Regions from separate parts of the Homo sapiens genome. Here region 1 is linked to region 2. Evidence: fine-mapped expression QTL. A gene starts in region 2. The other region holds a variant in brackets. All regions are shown on one strand. Distances are from middle to middle. Region 1 overlaps AKT3 (AKT serine/threonine kinase 3). Region 2 holds the start of AKT3 (AKT serine/threonine kinase 3).

The links. PIP is the estimated chance that this variant, and not a neighbour inherited with it, causes the effect. A credible set is the group of variants that fine-mapping cannot tell apart.
Region 1: its variant is the best candidate, but not a certain one, in a credible set for the expression of AKT3 in subcutaneous fat (GTEx, PIP 0.67).

The regions. Positions count from the first base shown.
Region 1 is chr1:243,501,077-243,516,640 of GRCh38, forward strand. AKT3 (AKT serine/threonine kinase 3) reads right to left here. Exons shown (of 14, transcript NM_005465.7): 13 at 11,248-11,350; 14 at 1-4,258. The coding sequence ends at 4,173. Among named protein-coding and RNA genes, the nearest start is that of MIR4677, 160 kb to the left of the region's middle. The variant C/T (reference allele first, on the strand shown) is at 7,696.
Region 2 is chr1:243,843,731-243,859,294 of GRCh38, forward strand. AKT3 (AKT serine/threonine kinase 3) reads right to left here and starts at 6,513. Exons shown (of 14, transcript NM_005465.7): 1 at 6,310-6,513. RefSeq lists an enhancer at 5,422-5,922.

The DNA.
Region 1 (15,564 bases), 340 kb before region 2:
TCAAATTTGGCCGTGTGACATACACATACATGCTTGACTCACTCTGGTCCCAAAAGCCATTCCTCTGTCTGGCTTCGTCACAGGAGCAAAGCCAAGTTTCTACAATAGTAGCTTTATGAGGTAAAATCAGAAAAAGGCCCCATCCAGAATGATTCAACGTGAAGTCAGACTGCAGTCCAGCCATCCTACCCATCTACATCACCCACGTCTAAGTTTGTTAATTTGCCATGACATGTTGTTAGAAATACACTCTAAGAAAGGAAATATGCAGAGCAGTACATTATCAGGAAGACGTTAATGAAAAGCTACATTCCTTCAGATTCTGGGTCCAAACCGTGTGTTGTATAGATGATTCGGGTCTGAATGTCCCCAGGGTCTGAGACCTCCTTCATCCCTGGCTTCACAGTACATCCATCCTAAATCCAGTGCTGAGAGGTCAGCGTTTCCCCTCAGAAGCAGCCGTTCATCAAAGTTTGCACAACCGCACTACTGCCATTTCACTGAAGTAAAAATGATCCCCTATGTGTGTGTGTGTGAGCTACAAGGAATTATTTCTATATTTTCCTGTCACATTTTATACAAGGTAGGTTAATACCAGCTGGGGCTATTAAAAATCATGTTTTCATTAAAGAAGATTTAATTTGGGGGGATTATAGAACCACATCCAACAACAATAAACAGAGAAGTAGCAGATTGACATAGTGCTTTATTTAAGCTGTCTGTACGAAGGAAAATCATGTTCATCCCTATCATATACGTGTAAAAATACTAAGGATGTACAGTGTACAAAAACAGTTTCTCCTAGTTATTCCACATCCTTGTGGGTCATATACTTCAGGAAATAGACAGGTTTAGTATGACCAACAGTAATAGTAATACAGTTTCTTGGGTTTATAGTTGCATCTGCTTAAAATCCTTAACCAGATGACTAGATCTTGCGCAGATCTAATGAAAGAACTAGCAAGGTCAAGAAATGTCACAAACTATAAAGCTACAGGGAGGTAATTCAATTACCAATTTAGAGGTTTTCTTTTTATTTAAATAAATACTTTACATTTCATGCTTGCCTGTAATGCACTACCAGGAGCAAGATAAGGAAATTCTACTGTAGACAGTACAAACAGTAGCAGCAAAGTGTGTATGTTGAGGTGTAATAGAGAGACCCTGCAGTTAGTAAGGAAGGCCCTTACTTTTGTACTCTAGGAGAAGCAAGTGGCCCCTGCAAGAACAGTCAGCTTTAAGAAGCTGGAAATCAGGGATGGGAAATGGAAAACAATACTTGAATAATGCTATGTAATTAGTGTAGAAAGCAAAGCTGAGCGCGACCCTGCCAACCATCTAAGCAGAAATGGCCAATTTCCTCCAAGATGGCTGCATTATGACAAGAAGTCAAGCTTCATGACAGTTAGTATGGGCTGGAGTCTGCAAAGTCTGAACTGTATTCTCATAGAATGATTCCAGGTTTCAGGGTGTTCCACCTGCCAGAACCCAAAACTACAACTATGGGCGACACAAGGGAAGTTTTAGAAATCTCCCTCTACACGCATTTCTGGTTTTCTATTATTCCTCCATGGCAGCTGACAGATCTGGAAGTGAAAATAGGGGATTCTCAAAATCAAAGCCAAGAAGACACCTTGTGTGACACCAATGGAGTCTCAGAGGGTGGAATAGAAGTGACTGAGCCCCAGGCATGGCTGGGAACTGAGAGCCAGTGTGAGGAGTGGCCCGCCTGGGGCAATGTCAGTGCCAGTCATTAATCTTTAAGAAGTGTCCTTGGCCAAGGTCATGGGAATCACTTTAAGATTTGCGGGAGAAAAAACCAAAACAACAAAAAGCTGTGTGCTTAGTGTTCGGTGTCATGCTTTCCCTCTAGAGGAGTAAGTGCTCTGAACATCAGCCAGTCTCAGCTTTCTGCTCTTCCTCTCACCTGTTTCTTTCTTATATAATGGATGCAAGACAACTTAAAGAACATACCTTCTAGTCTACTTTTTTGTCAAAATGAAACATTCAACATAATTCCAAGTGAAAAAAAAAAGATTAGCTATGTGTGTAAGTAAGAATGAACTACCATTTACTGTAACTTCCTACTCAATACTAAGGATGAACTTCACTCAGGTAGAAATATGAAAAAGAAGGATAACGTTGATGTCTGAATATGTCTTAGCTGCCTTAGTAAAATGCCCTTTAACCCCCGTCAGTCCCAGTGGCCCACCCACTGCCAGCAGTGGTTTCATAGCTATAAATCCACACTTCCAGCGTCAAGAGGCTAAGACATCTGCATATGAATATGATTCATCCTACTTAGAAAGTCACTTGCTCTTTCATACAATGCAATCATAATACTACGTCATGCTGTAGTCTTCCGTTTGGGAGCTGTCAGAGTTTAACTAAAATACATTTCCATGATCACTCCGCGGAGTAGGATGGCCTTCTGCTTGCCGCAAGAGTGGCCCCCAGCCCCTAGGACTTCACAGGCTGCTTTGGAAATTGTCAGCTCCTAGCACCAAAGGGTTTAATCTGAAGATCATCATTAATGAAGGAGAAAGATGAGGTTTGCATACATGCCCCCTTTCAGTGAGAAATGTTGGAATCTGGGGGACATGAGTATATACAGAAAAAGAAAAGCTGGAGGTGTTCTCTTTTTTTGTTGTTTTTTCCCTGATGGCTTAATTCAGTGATAAATGTACCATGATCCCAAGAAACACACCAGGTTCTTAGCCTTCACTGCCCATTTCCTAAATACTCAAGATGTGTTCATTTTGCCACGTAAAGATCATTTCTTATCTTCACTCAGGTCTCAATTTTCTTCATTACTTTTTGTTGCCAGGTCATCATAACGTTTCAAATTCTTAAATGAGCAAACGTCAACAGCTATTTGTTTCATTAACCCCTTGGCATGCATAGTTGGGGATTTTCTCATTTTCAGTACCAAGGGGTTAAATGGCAGCATCTCTTCTCCCAAAGCCAAATTCTAACCAATATATTCCATTTCAGAGCCTTATCATTTTTTTTAACAGAGGAGAAAAAGTGCATGATTCTCATCAGCGTGTACAATCCTTGCACATGGGTCAAAAGTAACTGCAGTAAGTCTATTTTATATAAGTTGGAGCTGCGTTTGCTAACATGACATACAATTCTCATCACTAAAAAATAAATACTACTGCAATATAAACAAAATCATAAAAGGACATTCAAAGTTTCAACATCTGAGAAAAAGCTAATTCACGTAGAACTGAAAGTAAAAAATTAAATAAGGCAAACACCTGTTTACCTTGGTGTAGAAATTTTGGTGAAAAGCAGTATCATTATACCTGTCTACATTCTTCAGCCATCAGAGGTGATAAATGTCAAGAAGGAAAAAAGGTTTCCAAGCACAGGGGAAAGATGCTCTCTGGCTCAAATTGTTTCATAAGACCCTTTAAGTGACCTTGACTGTGCATATGCCTTCAGTTCTTGGTAGAACAGTGTTCACTTGCTCATGATTGCCCGTGAAGTCTCGACATCCACATGTGATATGGGCTTCTTCTACAGTATCCACCAGGAATTTAAAAAAAAAAAATTATATATATATATATATATCCCAACAGTTGTTCAGTCCTTCTACCAAATGCTTCCTAATCAATTCCAGCCACAGCTTAGTGATATATGCCTACTTCACGCACGGATCTGATGTGCTTTACATATGCACGCCACCACCCTTCCACAATTGCTTGTTCTGAATTTATAAACTAAATCTTCTTAGTCTAGTTAGTTTTTCTCTTCTAGAAAGTTAAAAAATGTACCTAGAATCAGTGTATCTCATTTAGCCTTCACTGAGGGAAAAACTAAAAGATCAAAAGATGATAATTGGTGCACAAATGAACAATGGTGGGCTCATGACTTCCAAAGGTTGGAAAATTACTTCTTAAAGTTGCTATAATAGTAAGACAGTAGCAGCAACAGCATGAGACCTTAGACTGAGATACAATTTCATGCAAAAACAAAAACTGGAGTGTATTTGCGTGTATGTGTGTTTTCATGAGGGTGAAAGGTGGCGAGGGGTGAGGACCCTTGGCTGGTCTGGGATGTCGGAAGGTGCCCCTGCTATGTGTAAGAGCTAGGACTGGTGATGTCCAGGAATCATTTTCAGTAATAAATTGAAGATGACAGTGAAGTAGCAGAATGAAAGAGACTTATTCTCGTCCACTTGCAGAGTAGGAAAATTGAGGGAAATGCGGCCGCCTCTCATTGTCCATGCAGTCCATACCATCCTCATCATCTGTGGGCAGGAAACATCTATTTTAATTTTACACATTCATTTTTTGCAACATTATCTCTAGTCTATGTTTTTTAAACTCTGAACATAGGAAAGATGAACAGAGGCAATAGCTCCCATAAACTTGTGTTCATCAATAAGCTGTAGAGTAATTATACTTCAAAAATCATCTGATTTTCATAAATACATAGTCTATGAAGAAATAATACTATAGAATCATCTCTAAGACATCAAAATTTCAAGACTCAATGAAACAGTGAAAAAAATGGTATTGAAGAAAACAGAAGTTTTTAAGAAGGAGCAGTCTTCAGTAACCTTTCATTTCATGTAACCACATATATCAAAACTGCAAGTCAGTGAAATCCACAGCATCCAAAGTCTGTATAGAATTCATCATCGAATGTCTTCAAGTGCTTATATTTTTTCTTTGTGATGCTTTAAGTGCAACTGCAAAATAAAGCTTCTTATGAAATTTCATTCAACATCTAGCATCTGGCTTAACTCACCTTTCCCAATTTCCCTATGATAAAACTTTAGCATGAAGGGACTAAGTGAAAGAAAAAGAGGGAAGGATGTCAACATCTGAGTCCTAGCTCATCAGGAAACAATGGAAGAGACTTGAAAGGCATCAAAACAGGCCGCTGACAATCACAGTGTTCCTCCTGTCAGCTTTCCTGGTTTCCTGTATTTCAAAGATCACAGATGATCAGCACCCTGTTCTCATAAATGTCCTGTGATGACAGTCCTGTGCTGTTGGAAGCTCTTCCTGGTATGTGGCCACGTGGTCAGCCACTCAGTCAACATGCGCTCCCACGCATCTGCTCTGGGCTGAGCACCCGTCAGGCCCAAGGACCGCAGAACTTTGAACAAAGTCCCAAGGGCCCCCTGGCCTCACAGTCTCCTGGGGGAGGTGCTCCATTTTAAATCCCCCGTGCTTGCCTCTAAGCTTGTTTAATCATATGCTGTCCTGCAATGGAAATCAGTGAATCTTTCCAATACTCAACCCTTTTCTCTTCAAGCAAAATAATTCGATGTCCTCAAACCCATATAGGAAGTACATTACCAATTTTTTTGAATATTCTAACCTCTCCAGGGAGCATCCGCTGGATGTGGGTGTAAACAAAGAAAGCATACAGGCCAGATCCCACTGCACTGAGGCTCTGACTCTGTCACTCCGAAGAGGAGGGGGCTCTGCCTTTGTCTGAAGAATAAACACTTCCATTCTTGTATCACTGTTTTTCTTTTCTGTATCCCACTCTTAATGCAGAAGATTCTAGAAATGGGATCAAGCTGGCATTAGCCAAAATTTCTGACCCCTAATGTACCAGAAGATATCCTCGTATTAGGTGAGAACTGATCCATCAAGAAGCATTTGTGGCTCCCTGCTCTGTGTAAGACACTGAACTCGGAGGCCCTCTCTTCTTCTGCAAATAGACCACTGTAACTGCAGTCAGCATTTCTAGAAGGTATTGAGATTTGGGGAAATCTCTACCTCCTTATAAAGTTATTGGTTCCAATATTTGTACCAAGCAAGTCACACACATCTTTTAGATCAAATACCTTCAGCAGTATTTTTAGCTACAGTAAAAACGGAAGGAGCTGGGAATGATGGTGTACCCGTGGTTGAGCCCCAGAGTATAAAAACTCTCTAGAGAATACGGGCAGCTAAAACCTTAATGTTCAGATTCTGACATGAGCCAATCACATTTCAAATAAACAATTTTCCTCACCAACAGCTTTATTTTACTCAGTGTTTCTGCACAGCAAACCTGCAGCTGGCTCTGGACAGCAGTGGGGAGCCTGGTGCTTGTCCTGCTCAGCCAGGAAGGGCAGGAGCTGCCTGGACTCCTGGGGCCATGGCCAGGACTCATTCCAGCCCGGCGAGGTTCAGCACCCAGGTTAGCCAGATGCTCAACAGGGGCAGGTGCTAGACACCCTTTTGGAAGAGGAGGGACTCTTGCTGGTGTCAGCTAAGAATTGAGAGACAGCCTTCATTCTGTCACTTCAGTAACACATTCATCACAATTCTGAATCTAGGAAATTTCACAGATATCCCTGAGGGCCCCAATCCTTGATATTCTTTAAAGCCAATGATCTCCCTCCATCATTCCTGCCCCTTTCTGTTGTCAGGCTTGGAAACAATGAGGCGTGAACATCTGATCATGGCCCTAAAAGAGCTGAGAGCCTGGGCAGGGGCTGCGGTGGGAGGGGAGCTGGAGGAAGTGGCAGCTGACTCTGAGTCGGAGCCTGTCAATGTACACAAGTTAGTTCCTGCTGTGAGAGGCTGTGCATAGGGAATAGTGATGATAATGAACATGAACTATGTTTTTCAAAAACACTTATCTGGAAAAAGAAGACAATGATCAACTCTACTTGCTACATCCCTTGAATCCCTGCATCCAAGGAACATCAGTTGCCTGATTTTCTTAGAACATTTAACAAATGGCATTATATGGCAGTAAAAGCGACCAGATCTCAAAGAAACCCTCTTTTTCTGTAAGAGGAAGGAGGAGGACCATCAATGGCGATAACGAAAGATGACACATTCCCAAATCTGTTCCATTATTAACGCCAGTGAGGACAATCTGGCATGTCACTGCAGCTGTTTGTAGAAAATGGAACATTTTGCCTTTCTAACTGCTGATTTGTTCTAAACAATAACTGTATTCTGTTTTATACAAGCAAGGTGGCAAGTGGGAAGACAATTGCTAACGAATGGTACTACCCTGGACTTTTATCAACAAAACCTCTGTGTGTTAGCACTTAGGGAGCTGCAACGGTTTCTTACCAGTTAAACTATTCAAAGCTGCAAGAAAAAGGTTATGTTGAATGTAATCACCGTTCAAGGTTTCAGTGATTCTCATTTTATCTGCTCCTTAAGGGAATCTAGGATGTATCCAGGAACTGTCAAACTAAAAATACTGCCCCGTTGCCCTAGAAGAACCCAGAAGCTGCAGTTAACCACCATCAAGGCTGCTCCCCTAAGACAGGAAGCCCAGGGCCCCATGGCCCCCAGTGCTGAGCGCTGCGCTCTGCTGAGCCACACAGACAGCAGGAGAGGCTGCTGAACAGAGGTGCCTGCAGATGCGTCGATGCTAGTCTTTGCCTGGGCATACTCTGCTGAGCTCTTCCGTCTGACTTTCCTTGCTACAGAGGTCCTGAATAGGGAAAAACACAGCAAGTCCATAGCGCCCTCCCCACCCCTCAATTGCGGTGTGCCCTGTCAGAAACAGATGACATTGCTGGGCTCTCGTTTCCGTACTGTCCAGGGCCCAGGAGCAGGGCAGGACCACACCCCATTTCTGACACCCACAAAAGCCAGACTTTTTTTTTTTTTTTTTTTTTTTTTTAAAAGACAGAGTCTTGCTCTGTCACCCAGACTGGAGGGCAATGTTGTGATCTCAGCTCAGTGCAGCTTCTGCCTCCCGGGTTCAAGCGAT[C/T]CTCCTGCCTCAGCCTCCCGAGTGGCTGGAATCACAGGAATGCACCACCACGTCTGGCTAATTTTTGTATTTTTTTTTGTAGAGAGGGGGTTTCACCATGTTGGCCAGGCTAGTCTCAGACTCCTCCTGACCTCAAGTGATCCACCCGCCTTGGCCTCCCAAAGTGCTGGGATTACAGGTGTGCACCACTGCGCCTAGACAAAAGCCAGACTTTTGTGGTCCTACAATTGCAGGTGGATTTTGATAACCATCTTGAAAGTTACTACAATGTACAGGCTTCCTAGGTATCTCTGTCTCAATCTAGAAGTGAACCTATTATCATTTAAAGACACCAAGGTTGTAGGGCTTTTACAGCATGATCCATGTCTGAAATGACACATGTTATTTAAGAACAGAGGTGCTGTCAGTGGTAAAATATGACATGCCAGGAAAAACATTCTTGATGGCTTTTATATTGCTGATTAATGAAGCCAAGGAACTAGGTTCAAATTATGTTCTAGAAACTGTGCTGGGGGACTTCTAACACCTTCTAACATTTCAGTCTCATTTTAGAAGTCCTAGAGATTGAGCAATAAAATGCACACTAATGACAAATTCTCATCAGGACAAGTGCCCCGCGGGTGTCGAGTAAGGAATAAAGCAGGTAAGATGAATTTCGAAGAGATTCTGGTCCTTGAAAGCTAGGGCTTTGAAATTCAAGTCAATCATGAAAAAATGACTGACTAGCCTAAGAGTCATATACAACAGTTTCTAATTGACCTTATTTGTACCCAAATCCATTTTGATTTGCTCTGGTCTTTCTAGTCTCACATTTCTGAGCATCGCATTAGTCAGCCCTGTCCGCCGGCCCTCCACTACACCACCCCTGCAGCCAGGTGCTTGCTGCGTTGGGCCTATCATCCCCCTAAATGGACTGGCCCACAGCATACAGTAACACTATGGACTAGCCAATCTGGTGCTTGAGCAGAATTGAAAATAGGGTGATTCAAATTGGCAGAACTCTCGGTGCCTCTCCTAAAGAGACGGCTTCTCAGGCACACGGGAGGACAAAAACGCCACTGAGAGACTATCAGCCCTGCTCCCTGCTTTTCCAGGGGACAAAGTGACCGGCCATCGCCCAGAACTGTAAGGGGCACAGGCAGGACACAAGGCAGGTTCCCCAGGTCTGAGTCCTGGGCTTTTTCAGCCTCACTCCATGTCCCAAATTGGGATTTCACTTTTAGCTTTCTTAAGTAAAATATCTACTCCTGGCTTGACATTTTAGAGCCTTCTTATTTCTATGACTTCCAAAATAACATATTTACTTGCTCTAAAGGTACGCAAATGCCAAATGCTCTATTTAAGAATGGAAACTTTCTCAGAGGCTGAGACTGAGGAAAGAGACCTGTCAAGACCTTCCTATCCCAATATCTGCTTTGGATATTCAGAGGGGAGGCAAGCCTGGGTGTCCTCCCGGCTCTGAAGTTCCTAGGCCCTCACCATATTCTGTGTATTCATGCACCTAACAAGTATTATTGAATACGCACACTGTGCCAGGCATCTAACTAGGAGCTTGGGCTAATAACGAATGAGACAAACTAGATCCTTCCTCTCCAACCCACTGCATGTTAGTGGCGGAAATAGACACTAACCAAACAAACAGAAAAATACCAGCAAGTCAAGGTGCCAATGCAGAGAATGAAGAGAGAGAGGGAATGTTGTCAGACTGATGCTCTTCAGACTAGGAGGTCAAAGAAGGTTCTCTGATGGAATGACATGTAAGCTTAGAGCTGAAGGACAAGAAGGAGCCATCCAAGTAAGATCAGGGAAGAAGAGCATTCCAGGCCTGGACACCATAAATACTGTCCCCAGAGCCCGAGGCATGGTGACGTGTGGCATGTTCGAGGTGTGGCTGGAACCCAGGGACAGTGGGGGAAGATGGAACAGGAAGAGGTCAGAGAGGTGGACAGGGCCCAGATCAGTCAGTGCTGTGCAAACCAGTGTGAGCAAGTTTGGATTTAGAGTGCAATGGGATGGCACCGGAAGGTTTTAAGCAGAGGAATGATGTGGTCTGATTACAGTTAGGATTATATCCAAATGAAAGGGCCTAGCAAAGGCTGTATGGCAGGAACTGCCCATGGGCCGATCCGAAAACTCACTGGTGTTACCCAGCATTTTGGACAATTCTAATGCCACAGTCTATGCTGGGGACAGAGGCCAAGGCCTATGCCCATGATTTCTACTCAGCGCTGAGCTACTTGCCCATGACTCCACAGGCTTTCCAACATTGTCTGTGACTCTTAGTGATTCTAAAATTCTAGCAATGGCACAAGATTGAGTGGAAACTCTGCCTCACCACAGGACTGACCATGAGTAGCTCACTTCAATGGATTGGTATTTCACAACTTAGCCTGGACATCGGTCAAGTTGGTAAGCCCTGCTTCTGGCTATGGCTGACCCAACTTCAGGACCTGGAGCACCTTAACTTTTTGTGAATCTAAAGAAAGAAAAGCACACACACGTCATCATATCTTCACTTTCAGGGTGTTCACAATCCCCTTGTGGCCAGACCATGGTCCCAAGATTAAGACCTCTTGGCCCACATGACCCCTTGTTTGCCTCTCGACAGTAGAATCTGCTGCCTGTGACCATCTCTGGCACAGCATTAGCCTCCAATCGCCCCTCTCCCGGACACTGAGTCCACATCAGCACTATGGATAAATCTGCCTCCAAAAAAGGAATGAGAGGAGAAGACATATAGGGAAGGAATCAAAAAGAAAAGGAAAGAAAAACTATGATGTGAACCCAAAGATGTGTAACTTGAAGCATTCTTGCAGCCATCCAAATATTGCCCTGAAACGCAATCTTATCCACATTCTTAAGTTAATGATGATACACACAGACCTCTGTCAGCATGAAAATGTTTATCAATTATGTCTGATCACCTTTTCCCTCATTACAGCTCCACTTATTTATGGTATTTCTCCAAGTGTGAGACATACTAATGTATATGAATTGACTTGAAGTGGTACATGAACACACAGTTTTCATAAATATGTAATTTATAGGTATCCAAAAGTATTAGCAAACTAAATTATGTCTTCACAGATAATACTATTTAAGAGAGAGCTAAGTAAAAAGGAGTGACTCTACATGAATTTTAAAACTATTAAGTAAGTAGGAGACCAAAACTGGCAAAATTCTGAAGGTTATGTGGGAATGAACGAAGTCTAGGAAAGAGGGGAGTCTCTATTTCACAATCCTTTCAGTTGGTGTCAAAACAATCTATTGGTGAACAGTAAGGAAGAGCTAGTCTGTAATTTCATCTACAATTTCTCTCTATATAATTTGTCCTACCCAGAAAAGCATTTCTTGCAGTCTTTTGATATTACCACTGGGAACTCAATATTCTTAAATTCAATTCAATATTCAATATTCTTAAATAGAATGGAGTAAGTCACTGTGGAATTTGATCTTGAAAATATCAGATGAGTTTTTAAAAGACTGTTTTCTTCAATTACATTAGGAGAAATTATATTAGAAATTTATCAATTGCCTTCTAAATTTACTTACATTTTTCAGGTGGTGTTATTGTAATAGTCTGAGCTGTAAATTCTTCATCAAAATATCTAGTATCTGTCTCAGATGTTACTTGAGGTTTAAAAGGAGGTACAAGCTGTAAAAAGAAAGAAAAAGAGTTTTATTAACTGATTTCAATTCAGGAAAATTCCTTTCTAGGAAAAAAGCAGAGAGCACGTAGTTAAATGAACAGAACAAAAGTCTACAATGCTGAGTCGCTGGGTAAGGGAGACATGATATTTGGCTTCCCAGTCAACAGTCTAAACCAACCGGTGGGTAATTGGTGGTTCTGTATAAAATCTAATGGATCACGAAAAACAACAAAAGAAAACCATTGAATAGGACGGGAGAGGGATATTGAAAAATCTGTGCTGGTTTTTTTCCCCAATAACAAACATACATGCAAAACCATATTGATGGGGAGCAGTGTGCCAGGATGTGGGCTCTTCCTCGGGCAACCTCTTTCTAGTGCTAGCTGAAGAGGGTAGTAATAAAAATACAACTTAATAATACAGCTATCACCAGGTTACAGATGAGAGTGCTGCCTTTGCCCTTCGTAAAGAACTACAACTTTGTACTTTGCTAAGAATTTGCTGATAAGAGATGGGCATTGATGCCTGCCCTGCTCTGGAAAAGGGTTTCCTGGTAGCCCCTGACGTTACATGCAAAATCTTGCCCACAGCTTTCATCAGATCCTCAAAGGGGACCACAGCCCAGAAGAGATTAAGAGTAGCTCCCCTGAGATTGACAGGGCAGGAATCATCTCATTCGCACTGCACCTGCGGCAGGCATGGCGTTAGGGAAGGTGGGGGTGGAAGGAAAGTCTCGGGCTACTGGAGGTTTCAGGAGCCGGAGCCCTGTGAACCTCCACTGGTTGGGAGGGAGAAGGAGCTAACACGAGGCTCCTGCTTCTCAGGGCTCTAGCCTTGAGGGACAGGTGGAACCCACAGGTTCCTTCTAGCACAGGATGCCCAGTCCCAGAGCATTAGGGTCAGAGTGCGTGCTCTGCAGAGTATCATTCAGAACAGGGGATGCTGCTTTAGAATACAGTTCTCACGGGGATAGGAACATGGCAAACAGAATGACAGAAATCAGCATGTTTTATAAAAATTTTACAAAAACAAATACACAATTGGCTTGAGATCAGTGCATTTTCCCACTCTTTCTGTCACCAAATGTATGTTAAATAATAAGGAAAATCTTTAAATTATTCTCTAGACAGAACTATATTTTTAAGAATCGTGGGATGAGCAGAATTAAAAGCAGGTTTTCAAAATAAGGGACATTTCAGTTTATGGTACATGCTACAAAGCATTCTTAATCTCTTCTTTTTATAATTCTTTCTGTTTACCCCCAGCACACAGCTATTCTAAGGTCTTCATGATTAGCAAGCACTCCTTTGGGGATGAACCAACTCTACGTTCCACTGATCAGCTGGTAATGGCGACTAATCCCTAAACTGAAACAAACTCCTCCACCAGTGGCAAGGAGAAGCCTGCCATTGTGCCAGACCATATTTCTTTCTAGCTGCCCTGCTGGATCCCCTGGACATGAGCAAGCAGGTCACTCCACTGCTAGAAACCCTCCCTCTGACTCTCAGGCTAAATTCTCCACACCAGCCTCACATATCACATGCACACGCACAGGGAACCCCAGAGGTGACAGAGGCTGGAACAATTTTGTTTTTTTTATTTTTTTTAGAAAACCAAGGGGGTAATTGCCCCTATCTGGCAGAAAACGGGAAGACTGGAATTCTGGTTGGGTTTTTCTGATTTACTATTCTACAGATGTTCACAAAATAGGTCTTTATCTTTCCAATCAGAAGTTAACCACAAGAAATTCCTGTGGCTGGAATCGGCTTCTCTTGGGCACTAGGAGTAGGTTTGCTCACCTCTGCCCCATCCTTTTCATCTGGTTCTTTGTGATGTCAAAAATTTAAATTTGCCTTCAAGTTAGGGGAAACTTGTCCTTTTAGATGAGAGAATGATGACCTGTAACTTTAACAAACTGAAACCTATCTTAACACAGTTTTCAAAAGATTATAGGGGAGCTTAAAATAGTCTCTGTTTCAAATGCCACGTGTACTGAGGACTTTCCTGACCGCCTTCTTACATTAAACAGCTATCCTCCCCCTCACTTTCTATCTTCACATTGCTTTTTCTTCAAGACTTTGCGACATCTGATACACAGGCACGTATACATGCACACATATGATATACATGTATTTGTTACTGTCAATGTTCATCACCAATAAAATATAAGTTCCACGAGGGCAAGGACTTTAAAAAAAAGTTTATTGATGCGTAATTAACATACACTAAACAGCACACATTAAGAATATACAACTTGGGCTGGGTGTGGCAGCGGGCGCCTGTAGTCCCAGCTACTTGGGAGGCTGACGTGGAAGGATCACTTCAGCCCAGAAGGCAGAGGTTGCTGTGAGCCAAGATTATGCTATTGCATTCCAACCCGGCCGGGGCGAACGAGTAAAACCCTCTCAAAAAAACAAACAAAAAACATGCAACTGATACGTTTTGACATATGTATATACCCATGAAACTGTCACCAAAATCAAGATGATGAAAACATCTACCACTTCAAATGTCTTCTTGTGCCCATGTGTACTTCCATCCTCCCATCCCCTGCAGGCCATGACTGACATACTTTCTGCCATGACTGATTTGCTTGTATTTTAAAGAATTTTATGCAAATGGATCATAGAGTATGTACTCTTTATCTGGCTTGTTCATTTAGCATTATTACTTTGATATTCATCCATGTCACCACATGTATCAATAGTTTACTCACTTTGCTGGGTAATATTTCAGTACATAGATGTATCACAATGGACACACTCATCTGTCAATGAACACAGGGCCTGCTCCCAGTTTGGGGCAATTACAAACAAAATTGCTATTAACTTTTATGTCCACGTCTTTGTGTAGACATATGATTTAATTTATTTAGGACAAATACTAAGGAGTGGAATGGCTGGGCCGTATGGTAGGTATACATTTGACTTTTCCAGAAACTGTCAAATTGTTTTCCTTTACCATGTTAAAAAAAAAAAAAACCCAATTCCTAATTCACTCAGAGCGTTTCATTTTTTGTTTAAATAAGTTTTAAAAAGGATGGATTTTTCTTAGTTTTTTCTTTGCATCATTTGATATAATCATTTCCTTCGTACTCTGTTAATAGGTGAACTATAGTGATTGGTTTTGAATGTTAAATCAATCTTATATTCCTAGAACAGACCACACTGGTAGTGATTCTTTGTATCTATTGTTAGATTTGATTTGCTAAAATTAAATTAAACATTTTAGCATATATATTCATTAAGAATATTGGTCTATAGCATTCTTTTAAAAATCTCTTTGCGGGCCAGGTGTGGTGGCTCATGCCTGTAATCCCAGCACTTTGGGAGGCCGAGGCAGGCAGATCACCAGGTCAGGAGATCAAGACCATCCTGGCTAACATGGGAAACCCCCGTCTCTACTAAAAATACCAAAAATTAGCCGGCTGTGGTGGCAGGTGCCTGTAGTCCCAGCTACTCGGGAGAATGGCATGAACCCGGGAGGCGGAGCTTGCCATGAGCTGAGATCGCGTCACTGCACTCCAGCCTGGGCGACGGAGCAAGACTCCATCTCAAAAAAAAAAAAAAATCTCTTGCATATTGATATCAAGTTAATACCTGCCTCACAGAATGAACTGAGAAATGTTCTCTCATCTTCAATTTTCTGGAATAATTTGTATAGAACTGATAATATTCCTTAAATGTTTGGTAGACTTCGTTGGTGAAAATATGTGGGTCTGGTGTCTTTGTCAGAAGGATCTTAACCACAACTATAATTTCTTTAGCAGGTACAAGGCTATTCATGACATCTATTTCTTCTTGGTAATTTGTATCTTTCAACATATGTGTCCATTTCAGCTAAATAGTTGAATTTATTGGCATAAAGTTATACATAATGCTTCCATATTATCCACTTAATACCAATAGAATCTGTAGCAGTGTCAACATTTATTATTTGTCTTCTCACTTTTCTTTTCAGTCAGGTGAGAAATACATCAATTTTAATGATCTTCTCAAAAGCCCAGTTTTCCTTTCATCAATTTTCTCTATGATTTTTTGTTTTCTATTTCATTGATTGCTATCCCAATCTTTATTTCCTTTGTTCTGCTTACACTGTGTTTAACTTGTTCTTATTTTTCTAATTCCTTTTTCTTTTTCTTGTTTTTTAGAGACAAAATCTGGCTCTGTCACCCAGGCTAGAGTGCAGGGATGTGATCATAGTTCACTGAAGCCTCAAA
Region 2 (15,564 bases):
AACCTCCACCTCCCAGGTTCAAGCGATTCTTCTGCCTCAGCCTCCCAAGCAGCTGGGACTACAGGTGTGCGCCACCACGCCCTGCTAATTTTTGTATTTTTAGTAGAAACGGGGTTTCACCATATTGGCCAGGCTGGTCTCAAACTCCTGACCTCATGATCCACCCGCCTCAGCCTCCCAAAGTGCTGGGATTACAGAAGTGAGCCACCACAACCAGTCGTGAATACTTTAAGTGATATAAAATACAACGTACCAAGAACTCATCATTTACGTATTCTTACTCTGCCTGTTCCAAGAAATATTTTAAGGAGATTAAAAAATAATTGATTTCATATTATGTACTTATTATAAAGTAAAGTGAAACAAAGGGAATATGAAAGTAGAAAAAAATATTTAGTACTCAAGATGTGCCAAGAACTGTTACGGGTACTTACATCTATTATTCTTATGTGATCTTTATAACCTTATGAGGATACTATTAATTCCATTTCACAGACAAGGAAACTGAGGCTCACACAGATAAACCAACTTGCTCAATTTCAACACACCTAGTAAATGTGGAGCCAAGATCTGAACCCAGGCTGTCTGACTCCAGAGCCTGCATTCCAAAACTATACTGCCTTAAGATAAAAAGAAGTCAGAGTAAAGGCATACATACTTGGGAAAGATACGTCACAAATTTGGCATGGAGCTCTTGGGAAGACAATGCAAATAACAAAACACAACAGGCTTTCCTATTTACAGTATCCAAAAAAAATTTTTTTTTGAGATGGGGTTTCCCCCCATCATCCAGGCTAGAGTAGAGTGGCACAATCATAGCTCACTGCAGCCTCCAATGGGGGTCAAGCAATCCTCCCACCTCAGCCTCCTGAGGAGCTGGACTACAGGCAGGCATCACCATGCCTAGCTAATTTTTAAAAAAAATTTTTGTGGAGATGGGGTCCCGCTATATTGTCCACGCTGCACAAATTTTTTTAAAAAGCAAAAAAAGTTCCTCAGAAGAAATACAACTTTTCCTGGGACAAACATCGAATTTATCCCATGGGTCTTCTTCATAAGATGTATGCGGGAAAGTCCTCAAAAACACCCTCCCATATACAGCAATGAGTTTTACAGGGTCATTGCTTATTGTCACTCTCAAACTAAAAAGGAAAATGCCAACATAAAATTAGTAAATCCATTTGCACAGAAGGGGACCAAAAAATGTGGTCCAGGTACACCAGTGTTATGTGGTCAAGAATCATATCATAAATTTTAGATAACTAGAAAAATGGATAGATGGACTACACAAACATACTCTCTCAACTTGGTTTGTGATAAATGATACATAGCAGTTAAGTTCAGTGTTAGACTCCCAACCTAGCGCTAAATTAGACTACAGGTCATTCTTCAATGCAAATTAAGTGTGGAGCTTAACCATTTAACAGTCAGGAATCAAGACTAAACATTCTCTAGACAGCCTGACTAAATAGCCTGACAAAAGCTATGTAGCTGAATGCAAGACCACCAGCCTCATGTATTATGAGGTCACAGGCAGAACCTATAGGTAAGGCTGAGACTCCTCAAAATCACCATGAGTCTGTTGCTGTAGAGTGTCAAAAAGGGATATTAGTTTGTAATCCCAGCACTTTGGGAGGCCAGGGCAGGAGGATCACTTATGTCCAGGAGTTCAAGGCCAGCCTGGGCAACATGGCAAAACCCATCTCCACAAAAAATACAAAAATTAGCTGGGAGTGGTGGCAGGCACCTGTAGTCCCAGCTACTCAGGAGGCTGAGGTGGGAGGATCACCTGAGCCCAGGAAGTCTAGGCTATGCTGAGTGGTGACCGTGCCTGGGTGCTACAGTGAGAACCTGTCTCAAAAAAAAAAAAAAAGAAAAGAAAAGAAAAAGAATTTGGTTGCACAGTTGGCCATATTTTTGTAATATGCATGTAAAATCATTTTAAAATCTGTCTTGGGAGCCTCATCATAAATTTTTAAAAATCCATACATACATATAAAATGCAATTGATATATGGTCCATTAAATACCAAGAATCAGCTTGACAGAATTTACCCCCAGATTAAACTGAGCTACCCAATAGGTATGGAATCCTCTAACAAGGTTCATCACAATGGTGTATTAGGAAGAGCACCAGAAAGACCAAGAAACTTGAGTCCCTGCCCCACCCAGAGTGATGCTGTATAAGGTCACTTTAATTATCTGTGCCTCAGTTTCCGGAGCCATAAAAATGAAAGTATAGCATTAGATGAACTCTGAATAGCTTTATAGCTCTTCCAGAGCTAATATTTATGATTCTGCAAGTTAAAATCTACGGAGTATCTACTTCATATATAGATGGCATCATAAGTGAAAGACATGATTATACATACATAGTTCATGTCCTCAAAAGTTTGATAATTGGAAGATAAAACATTCAAACAGCATTTCAACTAAGACAAAATTTGGGCTAAGCTCCATTATTGGAAAAATACTGTCCTCCTTCCCCTCCCATCCCCTAGTCCCCCAAATACAGTCAGAAGCTTTCTAATATAGATTCCAATATACATGTAAAATCCTCCTAAAATCTGTCTTGGGAATCTCCCTAATTATAAATTTTTTTAAATCCATCCATATATATATAGGAATTATCTAATATAGGGAAGAAAAATTATCATTTGCAATTCTAGTGTTTTCTTCTAGTAAATCTTTTTACTTTCCTCTCATAATATTTAGAAATGAGAAATACCTGTAGTTGGTGATAGAGTACTGAAAAGAAACAGAACTAAAAAACACATCAACAAGTCAAGAAGCATATATTAATTTTATCTACCCATTAGTATTCAAAGATTACTTGGCAGAGAAAATGAGTTTACATCTAATTTGATTAAAGACTATGATGCTATAATAAAATCTGTAAACATTTGAGTTATTTAATTTGGCATTTTAAACAAATGAAAGGTGATGTTAATGGGCCAGTCAATACACTTTTATTAACTTGATGCTATGGAAATTATTGTACCAAATTTTGCAAATTTAGAATTATCACTGTTAACTGTAATAATAGGTACAAACAAGAAAAACACTAGAAGTGTTGCAGAATTAGGAAAGTTTAAATAAAAGGTATTTTTAGAATGCCACAATAAGTTTTTCTTATGTGAAAATCACTTTCAAAAGTGTAGCAGGGGTTGTTTGAAAGATTAAATGAATACAGGTAAAGCACATAGAACAGTGCCTGGCACATGGCAACTGCTTACCAGGCATTGGTTAGCATTAACTCTAAACTGAATCTAATCCTATCCCATGTAAAAGATCAGGACAAAGTATTTGTTGTCGGAAGATTCAGGACTATCTTTCCAAAAGAAGGTATGCTGTGTGACCAGGATTTAAAATACTGATGCACATGCTGAAACCTGGAGTAACACAAATCTTCTAACAAAAATTAATTGTATTATTAATGCATATTAACTTAAAAATAAAAATGCCAGTCAGATCACAAGACTGATTTGCTCAAAATGAAAATGGTTTTTCAGTTCTTGCATTTTGTTGCTCAAATCTAAGATAGTTTTAAATTTTTCTTTTTAACACTTCAAAACTTAATCACACTATAAAGACAAGCTCCTATCAAATCATGCTAAGCATCCAACTAACAAGTTGTTAACAGTGATTGCCTTACCTTCCCAAGGACAAATTCTTGAACTAAAAGATATAATAACAAAAGAAAACATAGCTATCTTTTCACGAAAATACACAAAGTTTAAGTAAAGGCTAAACTTCTACAAAATCAATTTGTAAAACAGGTTCCTCATTTTAAAGAAACCCAGATAGCTGGAAATTTCCACTGAATTTTTATGAGAAAATTTCTGATGTTTACATCAAAAGCTACAGCTTAAAAAATAAGTCCTTACTTTCCACAAGTCTCTATGCTAAGTCCATTTGTTCCCTAGTAAGTTTAATCAACACGTTTATTTAGATTTGCAGTGATTCTGAAAACAGATTCCTTCTGACAGTGATTTTCTGAATGAAATGTAAATATTAAAAGTTTTTAATTAAACCAGCACACAGTTCACACTCCAGTATTTGTTAAATATAATCTTATTTAAAATATTTTACAGCTATGAAATTAATTTTTAAAAAGTCCAAAGCAAAACCTTAAAGTACTCTGACATATACAATTTAGAGTCGATGTCAAGATTATTAAGCCAAAAATTAATTTTAAATTGGAAAACAATTCACTCCAGTAATAATTATGGAAAGAAAACCAAATGAATACAAATAATAATTTCACAATTTTTGCAGGATTACTTTGGACTATTTTTAAAACGCTGTAAGAAAACATGCTGCAAAACCACAATGCAAATACACAACTGAAAACTAAAACCCTACATTCATCTAAATTTCAACAGTCTCATTCATGTAATATTTGTCCTCCCTCACTTTAAAACTGGAACCTCAAGCCAATCAAAGATATTGGGGTCAACCCTAGTAAGGAAAACAAAAAGATCTTCAAGTACCATCTCCCTGTAAACTTTCAAGTACTATCTCCTTGGTAAACTTTCCAAGTCAAGATAATGTACTGGCAAAAGGAAAACAATTACAGTCCGGATATATATCTTGCATATAATTGTGCATTAAGTCATAAACCTTGGAAAACTAGTAACTTAGTAATAAGTTGCTATTTTAATTATAAAATATTTTCATGTTTTAGACAACCACCCCCGGAATGTTTGTATTCGTTTATACATATTTTGCAAGTGATACTCAAGTTCTGAAGACTAATCTTCATTTCCTACACCATCTTTATTAGACTCTTCCACCTTCGTTTTCCTAAGTAAATACATAACCTAAACCAATGAGTTTCACTCATTTGTCAGCTTCAACCACTGACAAAACCCAGTGGTTGCCTAGTGATGTATAGTTCTACTAAAAGACATATATGACCATGCTTTACCAAATACGGAACACATGTCTAAACTGTTGAGACAACTGCCAATGTATTAACTACAAAAAGCCATTATTTTTTACTTTAGCCTCAACTAAAATCAAAGTGTGAACACTTTATTATGGCTAGAAATTACCCAATATAGATGCATAGGTTTCACTGTTGACTTTCTATTTGGAAACTTCATCAATTGCAAACTACCAGGCTTTCAACCAAAATGCCACATTGGTGAAATGAGTTGGTTTTATTTTCATAACAACATTATTTTGATGGAAGAAATGTGAGCATCCCAGCTTTGACTTGTGGGTAAGCATTTCCTCTGCTTTCAGAACATAAACAGTAAATACCGGTATTGGAAAAACCTGGCCCCAACGAGATTCTTTATCTCTAGGCTAACTGTAGATTCCCGGGAAATCCCAAACAAGGGATGGTGACCCCGCCTCGGCGTCAGGGTCAACACAGCAACCAGCTAGGCTTCAACTTTGGGCTCTGAAGGGCCCCACCGGCATCATGGCTGATGCGGACCGATGCGCCGGAGGAGGTGGACAAGGAAGAGGCTGGTCTGTTTACTTGCAGCCAGAGCTGCCGCCGCCGCCAGCAGCGACAGCATCACTGGATCAGCCAAACCCAGCATCTTCCGCACATTTCTATTCTTAGCACACAACTCCCAAGCGGATCAAAACCCCACTACTATTAAAAACACAGACAAGCACGTTACCCACCTCCCACACACACACCCCCCCCCCCACCCCACCAGTGCCGTCTTTTCCTGCGCGCCAGTGGCGGGGAAGGGTGGGGGAAGGAAGGAGACCCCGGGGACGCCTGTGCATCCTCGCCTTCACCCCACCCCACGCGCAGACAGCCTCAGCGCCAGGGCGCGCGGCAGACGGCTCCCTCCCCCCAACCCAAACACACTGACACCGGCGCTCCACGCGTTATATAACCTCGCCGCCGCCCCCGGTCCAGGCGGGCGCCCCCTCCCCACGCCGCGCGGCCCGGGCGGGGAGGGGCGAGGGGAAGGAGCGAGAGTTGCGCAGACAGCAGGCGCCGGGCCGGGGCAGCCCAGACACAGACGGTACCGCTAGGCCGGGAACACCCCTCCCCCGGCCCGCTGCGCACCGCCGCCCCCCAGCTTTCCCCGGAAAGCGGGGGGTGTCGGTGTCAACCGCGCTGGGCATCCCCCGGCCTCCACACCCACACCCGAAGCCTCCGGTGACCCAGCCCCCGCCCACGCCCCCGGCGCGGTGACAACCCAGAAGCCCCCGCCTCACCCCACCCCGCCGCCATCCCCCGCCTGAGGGAGGCAGGGAGGGCGGACCGGGGCCCGGGGCCCGGAGGGAGTGGAGGCCAGGCGGGGAGGGGGCTAGAGTTGGGGGCGGTGGCTGTTACCTGCAACGGCGGCGGCGGCGGTGGCGGCCCCGCAGCTGCTCGGGCGGCGGCGGAGGATGGAGCCGGGGGGGGGCGGGGGGAGGAGAGGGGGCGACTCGGGGGTCCCCCCTCCCTCCTCCTCCCCTCCTGTCCTCCCCCCACCCCACAGAGCCTCTGGCCTCCTGGAGCCCGGTGCGGCCGGCGGGAGGGCAAGCGAAGGGCTGCAGGGGAGGGAGGGAGGGAGCCGGCCGGGCCGGGCCGCGGAGCTGGAGCGGGAGGCGGCGGCGGCGGCGGCGGCGGCGGGAGGGGGAGGGAGGAGAGAGGGCGGCGGCGGGGAGAGGAGGAGGCGGAGACTCTACATGGGAATCGGATATCGGCTACAAATTCATCACCAGAAAACACCGCTCGGGCGGGGGCCGGGTCACGCCGGCGGGGCGGCGGCTCTGGGCCCCGGGGCGCGCCCGGCGCGGGGAGGGGTTCTGCGGCCTCCTCCCGGGCTGCGCCTCGCTGAGGGGACCCCCCGCCGCCTCCCCGCCCCCTCCTTCCTCCCGCTCGGGGCCGCCGCCGATCGGTTCTCGCCGTCGCCGCGGGGCTTGTTGTTGACTTTGAGGAAAACTCCTGACGTCAGGGGCTGGCTCTCGGCGACTGGCGGGAGCGGCTTCCCCGCGTCCCCGGCCCTGCCCGCCGCCTCTGCTCCCCTCCCTGCCCGGCCCTCGTCCTCAGGCTTCCCCGCGCCCCCAAACCAGCGGTGCCCCGCGCCCCCTCTCCTCTCGCGAGAACATCCCCCTAGCCAGCCAGAGCCGGGAGCGGGGGCAGTCGCTCCCGGGCGGGAAGTTCTGGGTTTCCCCCTCGCCCGCGTGGCCCTTGGCGGGCACCCGAGGCCCGGGAGCGGAGGCTCCTCGCCCAGCCGCTTCCTCGGCGCATCCGCCCACCCGCCCTGGCCGCGGACGCGCGCGCCGCCAGGCCCCGGGCGTCTCCTCCAGTCCGCCGCGGCCCCTTGGGGAGATGGGCCCGGCGCGAGGGCTCGCACCTGGAAGCCCACGAAGTGGGCGGTGCCCAATGAGGTAGGGACCGGAGAGCGCGGAGCAGTCCAGAAGCCGACCCCACCCCCTGCACCTCGGGGAAGAGGGAACCCGGGTCAGCCCGTAGCAAGAATCATTCCTGACTATCCCAGGAGACCACGGCAGACCAAAAACACCTCTCTGAACAGCCTTCCGCACCGCTCGCTGCAAGCATTCGTCCACACACGGTACACAGATTGCGGGCGGATCGTAATTCACTCTTGAAATCACACCCTTTTTAGGGATATTCGTTTTCAATGACTTTGGGAAAGCCACGAGGTACTACATTTACTACGAAGAGACCGTTTCTTTATTTTGAAGTCAGTGACTCCTGAGACTGCATTGGGGACAACTTTTTTGCACAATGACCATATTTTACCATGCAGCGCACTTCAGAAAATTATAAAAGTTTACAAGTTTTATCGCTTCTGGAAACACCTGGGCAGCATCCCTATTATCCCGCCACGTGGCTCTAGCCTTGTTGATGTACCTGTTACTTTCTCCCACTGCAACATTTTTGTTAATGTCTGTGGCTTCTTTCTGCAGAAGAGTTCCTCCTCCTGACATGCACTTCATTCTCTGCTTTTCTATGTCTTGACAACTCTCTTATGGTAGTCATTTTCTTATACTGTAGCCCCCTGGTATTTATGTACTGTGTGGTATTAATATTTATACTTCCAGGTTCACATCTTTTATGAACTGTGCATCTGTTGGGATTGTGGACAGGAGTAGGAAACCAAATAAAAGGGTTTTTTAAAAAAGTCAGTTTTCTCCGTTTGTAAGGGAAACTTGTCTCCCTGACCACCCTGGAGCAAAATTTGCCATTTTAAGATAACACAGTCCGTCTGAGAGAAAGTCCTGCACCATGCCTTTCCCCTTTTCCCATATTTCCCAGCATGCTATGAGCTGATGAATAAACAGACTTTGTCCTATTTTCGTTGTATCTATAAAATATACATAATGTATTCCCATAATTATCAGACCTCTCACAGTCACTATTGGTAAAATTATTGGGTTACAGGTTTCTTGCTGTAAAACACAAAAATAGGTCATATTTTTATTCCATAGTACCCCAACTTGCTTTTTATTTTTAAGAAAATAGTCCCTTATGACACCAGCACTAAAAAGAGTGTCTGAAACTTTAAATACTTAACTTTTGAGAGTCAGAGTATCCGGAATTACTGAATTACTAGATATCTCTTATCAGTGAGATGTTCATTTGTTCCCAAATTTAACATCAATATATTTACAAGAACTGAATGTGTCTTATGAGCCATACTACCTCAAAATATTTCTCCCAGTCTGGTCAGATTGCATTAAATCTTAGGTGGATTAAACCCTAAAATTCAGTATGTGAGAATGGATTATATACTCTCGGCTTCATGTATTTGAAGAATTATAAGTTTTTATTTCTGTTCAATTTTTGCTTGTGGACTATAGTAGTTTCATAAGTTTCCATAATAAAAGCATGTTTGATTTTGTTATTGAATTACTATTGATTAGGGATATTATTTATTTAAATAACGTTGTTCTTTCTCTTAGACTATGCCGGTATGAATTTGGTAGAATCTGCCGATTGTGGTATGTCGGTACTCCATACAGAGTGTGTGGCAGATTTCTTCTCTATTTTGTTATCACATCCAGTAATATGGAGTGCAGCCAGCATGTTCATCCCTGGGAATGTCCCTCCTAAATTTTGCAAAGAAAGCCTTCATTCTTTATTACACCAAATATTCTTAAGATTAACATTTCTCAGTATTAGTTATTTATTCATTTTAAGAAAAATGTTCATTCTTCTTTACTACCAATGACTAAGTTTGATACTGAGCTATTTCTTGGTACTTCCCCCATTTCTTGGGAGTAACTAAAACTGGAAGGATATTTAGAATTTCAGAGCATCTAATGTCTTAGTCCATTCAGGCTGCTATAACAAAATACCATCAACTAGGTAGCTTATAAAGAACAGAAATTTATTTCTAACAGTTCTGGAGGCTGGGAAGTCCAAGATCATGGCACCAGCAGATTTGGTGTCTAAAGAGGGTTCCGTTTCCTGGTTTGTAGGTGGTGACTTCTTGCTGTGTCTTCACATTTTAGAAAGAGTGAGGGAACTCTCTTGGACCTCTTTTTCTTTTTCTTTGTTTTTTTTTTTTTTTTTTTTTTTTTTTTTTTTTTTTTTTTTAGAGACAGTGTCTCATTCTGTCACCCAGACTGGAGTGCAGTGGCATGATCATAGCTCACTGTAGCCTGGAACTCCTAGGCTCAGGCAACCCTCCTGCCTCAGCCTCCTGAGTAGCTGAGACTACCAGCATGAGTTAATGTTCCCAGCCATCTTGAGCCTCTTTTATAAGGGCACTAATCCCATTCTTGAGGGCTCAAACCCTCATGACTTAATCACCTCCCAAAGGCCCCATCTACTAACACACTTTGGAAGTTAGGATTTCAATCTATGAATTTGGGGAAACACAAAAATTCAGACCAGGGCATCACATAACAAAAATTAAGTTACTGCTCTTCTGTCTTAATAGAAAGGGTGTGTCATCCTAGGAGAGGGCATGGAACAAAGCAGACACAGAATACCTGTTTGTGGAAGAAATACATGTTCTAATGTTCTAATGACGGCTCTAATAAATCTGTGTACTATGTACAGTTTATATAGTATTTTCCTCTTGGGATGTAACGTGATTTATTGGAAAGAACATAAAAGTGCTTTGGAGACTTGCAGACCAGAGTTCAAATCCTCTCTCTGCAGAGTTTGTCTCATCTCAGGCAAGTTACTTAATTTTTCTAAGCCTTATATTTCCTTATTTGTGAAATGGCAGTTACAACTACTTCAACAACTTATGTGAATTAAATTTTATGAAATATTAGTATCTAAAACACAGTGAGTGGTCAGCAAGCTAAGATTCCTTTACCATAAATGTGAATATATTTATGTTAAACTAACAATAGCTGCTACAAACAAATACAAAAATCTATATTGGCACTCTCTGCCACAGTTGGTTCTGAAATAACCACGTTAAGTCTACAGCTGTAATTAGTGAATATATTCTAGATGATTAATAGAACAATTTCTAAAGGAGTATAGCTTAAATTTCTGTTGGTTAAGCCTCCCAATCTGTGATATTTTTCTTACAGCATCCCAAACTGACTAAGGCACACAGTTCATTACAATAGTTATCAGTACTAATTGTCTTTTTCTCCCTTTCCCTGATGTCTGTCTGTCTGTCTGTCTGTTTTTCTGTTTTTTTTTTTTTTTTTAGACAGAGTCTGGCTCTGTCACCAGGCTGGAGTGCAGTGGCATGATCTCGGCTCACTGCAACTCCACCTCTCGGGTTCAAGTGATTCTCCTGCTTCAGCCTCCCGAGTAGCTGGGATTACAGGCGCCTGCCACCACGCCCAGCTAATTTTTGTATTTTTAGTAGAGATGGGGTTTCCCCATGTTGGCCAGGATGGTCTCGATCTCCTGACCTCGTGATCCGCCCACCTCAGCCTCCCAAAGTCCTGATGTCTTTCTTAAGGCACAGGCCAGGTGCCTGTACAAGAACATATGAGCATAGCCAAGGGCCAGATATATCACTAATCTGGTGCTGTGTGAATCTGGGTTACTTAAAGCCCTGTGGAAACCTCCCTCTTATTTTGTTCTCAGGTTTTATTTTTTTGCTATGTTATTAGAGTATGAATGAATTTTTTTTGTTCATATTCTCATTGTCAGACGGCTAAATCTGTTAGCAACTTAAGCAATCTCTGGACATTACATTTAATATTTCAGGACACTTGGGTCACAAAAAGTTACTGACCACTAATAAATAACTGCTTGTGGAGCATCGAGCTAGAATTCATGTTCTAATTCCAAAGCAACAAGCATACACAATTATTATTCCTGGCTGTGCAGGAGAATCGTGGTATGTGATAAATTAATACATATTATAATCCTACAGCCTCATTTTAGTATGTAATGTTAACTTCCTGAGGTGGTGTGCATTTCTAGTTGTTTCTGAATCAGCTCTGTGGGGATTGGACTTTCCCATGCAACAGCTAGCAGTGAAATAACAACAGTAAATTTCCAACCTTCACCTGGATAATTACCTCAACTTCTTCCTCGGTTATCTCATGTAAATACTGTCCTGTTCCAGAAAGTTTCCCCATCCATTTTAAAACACAGTTTCTTCTGCCAATCAAAACACTTTCACAATTAACTGAAAAGTTTCAAATCTACATCTCACTATTTTAACCCTCTATGAAGTCCTTCAATTGTTGATTCTGTGCTATTTTGTTAAATAATACTGGCTTTTTATAGTAGGAGAAAATCAGTCTCAGAATTTTTCTGTTGACTAGACAGAACTATGACCATTTTAAATTGCAAACACTATCTCGATTCAGTAATTGGATTTGAATCAAAGCTCTGAATTTGATTTAGAATTCAAACTTTGTAGTGGGGAAAGCAGGCAGGCTCAGCTTCTCTATTTCTCTATCTTATTTTCCTCTTCCACTCCACAAGTCAGTCTCTGGGTGAAGGACAAAACAGTTCTTACCCAGCTGGTACCGCTGTCAGCCAGCTTTGCACTCTCTCAGCCTAGCACACAGAACCAGCTACATGATTTGCAAGGCCCAGTGCATAATGAAAATGCTGGGCCCCTTGCTGGAGAAGAGTTAAGAATTTAAAACTTTTTGAGAGCAGAGCGTTAAGCCAAGTACACAAGCCTGTATTCCGTACAGGTAGCATGCCCATGAGGCTGCCGGCATGTGCTTCATGCTAGCTGTCCAGGGGCTTTTCGGAGAGTTGCTTCTGGGCTACCCTAACTGCAATCTCTGCGATGTGGGTAATGCACCCTTACCTTCAGCTGGCGCTCCTGATGGCCCCTCAGCTTTAGTTTCTTCAGTCCTATTGGAGTCTTCTCACCCCTCTGGGAGAAAGTCTCATAGGCGCAACTCCAGATGGCTCCAGGCAAGTTCTCTCCCTCCCATAGGACTCTGGGCTACAGAAAACATTGAAACATTCTTTGCCCAGCAGGCCATTCTCTTCCAAGCAGTTGGGCAGCCTGTTTCCCAGTTTTCTGAATGGGAGTCAGATCCCAGTCCACAAAATGCCCCTGCCCTGCATCCAACCCCCATTGCAGGAAACACATTCCAAGCTCTCCACACAATCAATGGAAACCCGTGGAAGTCCCCGGCATGAGCCGAAGAAACATCCTCCATTTTCTCTGCACAGGAGGTGATGAGTGCAAGTCTCCCTTCCACAAACCTATCTTGAATTTTCTCCACTATTGTATATGTTTTAAGTGGATGAGAGTATTTGAGTCATAGATTTGGTTTTGAATTCTTTCCTTCATAATAGTGACCAAGCTTGAAATTTCATACTTTTGTATCTTGAGATCTCAGTTGAAACTTCAATTTAAAATTCCTATTAAAAAGCATATTCTCTTGCCTCATTCAAAATGCAGTGGCTCATGCCTGTAATCCCAGCATTTTGGGAGGCCAAGGCAGGAGAATCACTTGAGCTCAGGAGTTCAAGACTAGCCTGGGCAACATAGCAAAACCTTATCTCTACTAAAGTTATTTTTTTTAATTATCCAGGCATGGTGGTTCACGCCTGTAGTCCCAGCTATTGGTGGTTGAAGGGGTTAAGGTGAGAGGATAACTTGAGCCCGGGTGGTTGAGGCTGCAGTGAGCTATGATTGCACCACTGCACTGCAGCCTGGGTGACAGAGCACGTCTCTATCTCAAAAAAAGACAAAAAAATCTTCTCTATGCTGTAACTATTTTCTCTGTTGCTTATTTAGATGTGTGCTCACATGTATTAAAAAATTATCAGCTATTACTGAATAAGATATTTAACAGGTGTTCAAGGCACAAAATTAATTAAAATAGTGTCTTCTCTACATATTTGTATTTCTGTTTGATAAATATGTTCCAACAAATTGCCTTTTTCATACATTATTACCTACGTTACTATTAAATATTTTTAGAGACTCTTGCCCTTAGCTAATTTCTCAAATTTTTTATTAAGCAATTTAAAGTTGAACCCTTTGAAATTTTATCTCAGAAGATGCTATGATATAGATGCCACAAAATCAAGTATAAAAAAGGATAAATGTACAATTTGTATGAGAGTCGGTCACTTGCACAAAGGTCATGCTGAGCTATGAAAACCTCTAGATGCAGGCATGAATCATAAATGATGGATTTTTGCATACTTTTTTTTTGAGATGGAGTCTTGCTCTGTTGCCTAGGCTGGAGTGGAGTGGCACATTCTTGGCTCACTGCACCCTCCGCCTCCCAGGTTCAAGTGATTCTCCTGCCTCAGCCTCCCGAGTAGCTGGGACTACAGGTGTGTGCCACCATGCCTGGCTAATTTTTTTTGTACTTTTAGTAGAGGGAGGTTTTGCCATGTTGGCCAGGCTGGTCTCGAACTCCTGACCTCAGGTGATCCGCCCGCCTTGGCCTCCCAAAGTGCTGGGATTACAGGCATGAGCCATCACACCTGGCCAGATTTTTAAAAATAATGTAAGACTGCCTTGATTTCCCTTTAATGTCTATGATTACCAAAGAGAGGGTTTGCCTTCCTTTGTTCTTTATCAAGGTATTAAAAATTGAGAAAATATTGGACTTTGGGGCGTAGTTTAAACTCCTTAACTTTTTCTTGCTTCATTCAAAGTGCTATTGGGATCTTTGAGTATACAATGTTCAGAGAATAACAATTTGATAAATACGCATGTCATGTTTGCCTACCTTGTCTCTTTCTACCCCTCATCTTCTGAAAAGTTACTTCCTTATAGCTGTCTTCTTCTTCCAAATATCTGAGAAAGTCTTTGAGTTATGTGACATCTAGAAATCGTATTTATGAGCAGAAGCTTCTTCAAATAATCCATAAGGGAAAACTTATGAAGAGTGAGGAAAAAGACTCCAATTTTCATTACTCTTCATGCACTCTCTCCTTAATGGTGGTTATGATAACCCTGTTTTTCTTAAATCTCCACTCAGGGTATCATAAAACTTATTTGCATATTTACCTAGTCCCATTGTCTTCCCTGATAAAATGCTTTAAGCCTTAGATCATACAGTTTGTATTTTGGCATTCACTTCAACTTAATTCCATAAACATTTCTTGACTCTCTCTATAGATAAAGGTCTAGAGATCGATTTAAGTTCAACACAGAGTCTCCTTCCAAGAAGCTCCAGCTACCAGGGAGACCAACATGAATAAGTGACTATAAAACAAATAAGTGCTATGAGAGAAATATGTATAAAAGGGTATGAGAACACACCATTGGGAGCAATTAATAGTGAAATGAGAGGGAGTAAGTCAGGTCAACCTAAAGACAGGTTATTGATATTTTAGCTGAGCATTAAAATGAGGTCCAAAGTTGATCAGGCAGAGGGAGGAGGACATTCCTGCAGTGAAAAGAGCACCCCAAAAAACACAAGAGAATAACACTGGGGACTCCAAGAAAATAAAATAGGTGGGGGAAGGTCTCAGTGACATAAGTGATACGATAATTCAAGTCCAGTTTGAGCTGTCTATATGAATGCAGGAGCAGTGGAGAGGGAGAAGGAAGACTCTTAAATAACTTATGATATAGAATCAACAGGAATGAGTGATCAGTTGGCGGGCAGAGGGGTAGTAAATAGAAGAAGGAGTGAAGGATGATGCCCAGAATTCTCCCCTCCCTGGCACTGGGAGGAGGAATGGACTGTGTGTGTATGGACAAACATGCACACACTATGGTTATTGTTGCTAATTTTGGAGAATAAGGTTGGCAAGAGGCCGGGTTATGAAGAGAAAAGAAGATGAGTCGTTTTGGACATGTTAAAATGCAAATGCACCTGTGAGACTTCCAGGTAGATAGAGCAATCCACACTATAGCTAACACGGTTGAGTTCTTACTTTGTGCAAAGTGCTCCACTGAGCGCTCTACTGATTTAATATCAGAAGCACTTTTGAATATGGAAATGGAGGGATCTGACTAAAAGACTTGGTCTGGATGTAGGCTTGCATCAGAGCGTGGGGTAAGTGGCTCCGAATAGCAATGTGATATAAGAACCAAACCTTAGGAAGCACTAACACTGGAGGGCAAAAGGAGATGGAGGAAAAAAAGTCAAATAGGTGGGAAGAGAAAACGAGTTATGAAAGCCAAGGTGGGACAGAATGTCAAGAAAAGGCAGCGTTTGGCAGTGGGAATGTTGCACAGAGGTGAAATAAAAGATCAAGTCTGAT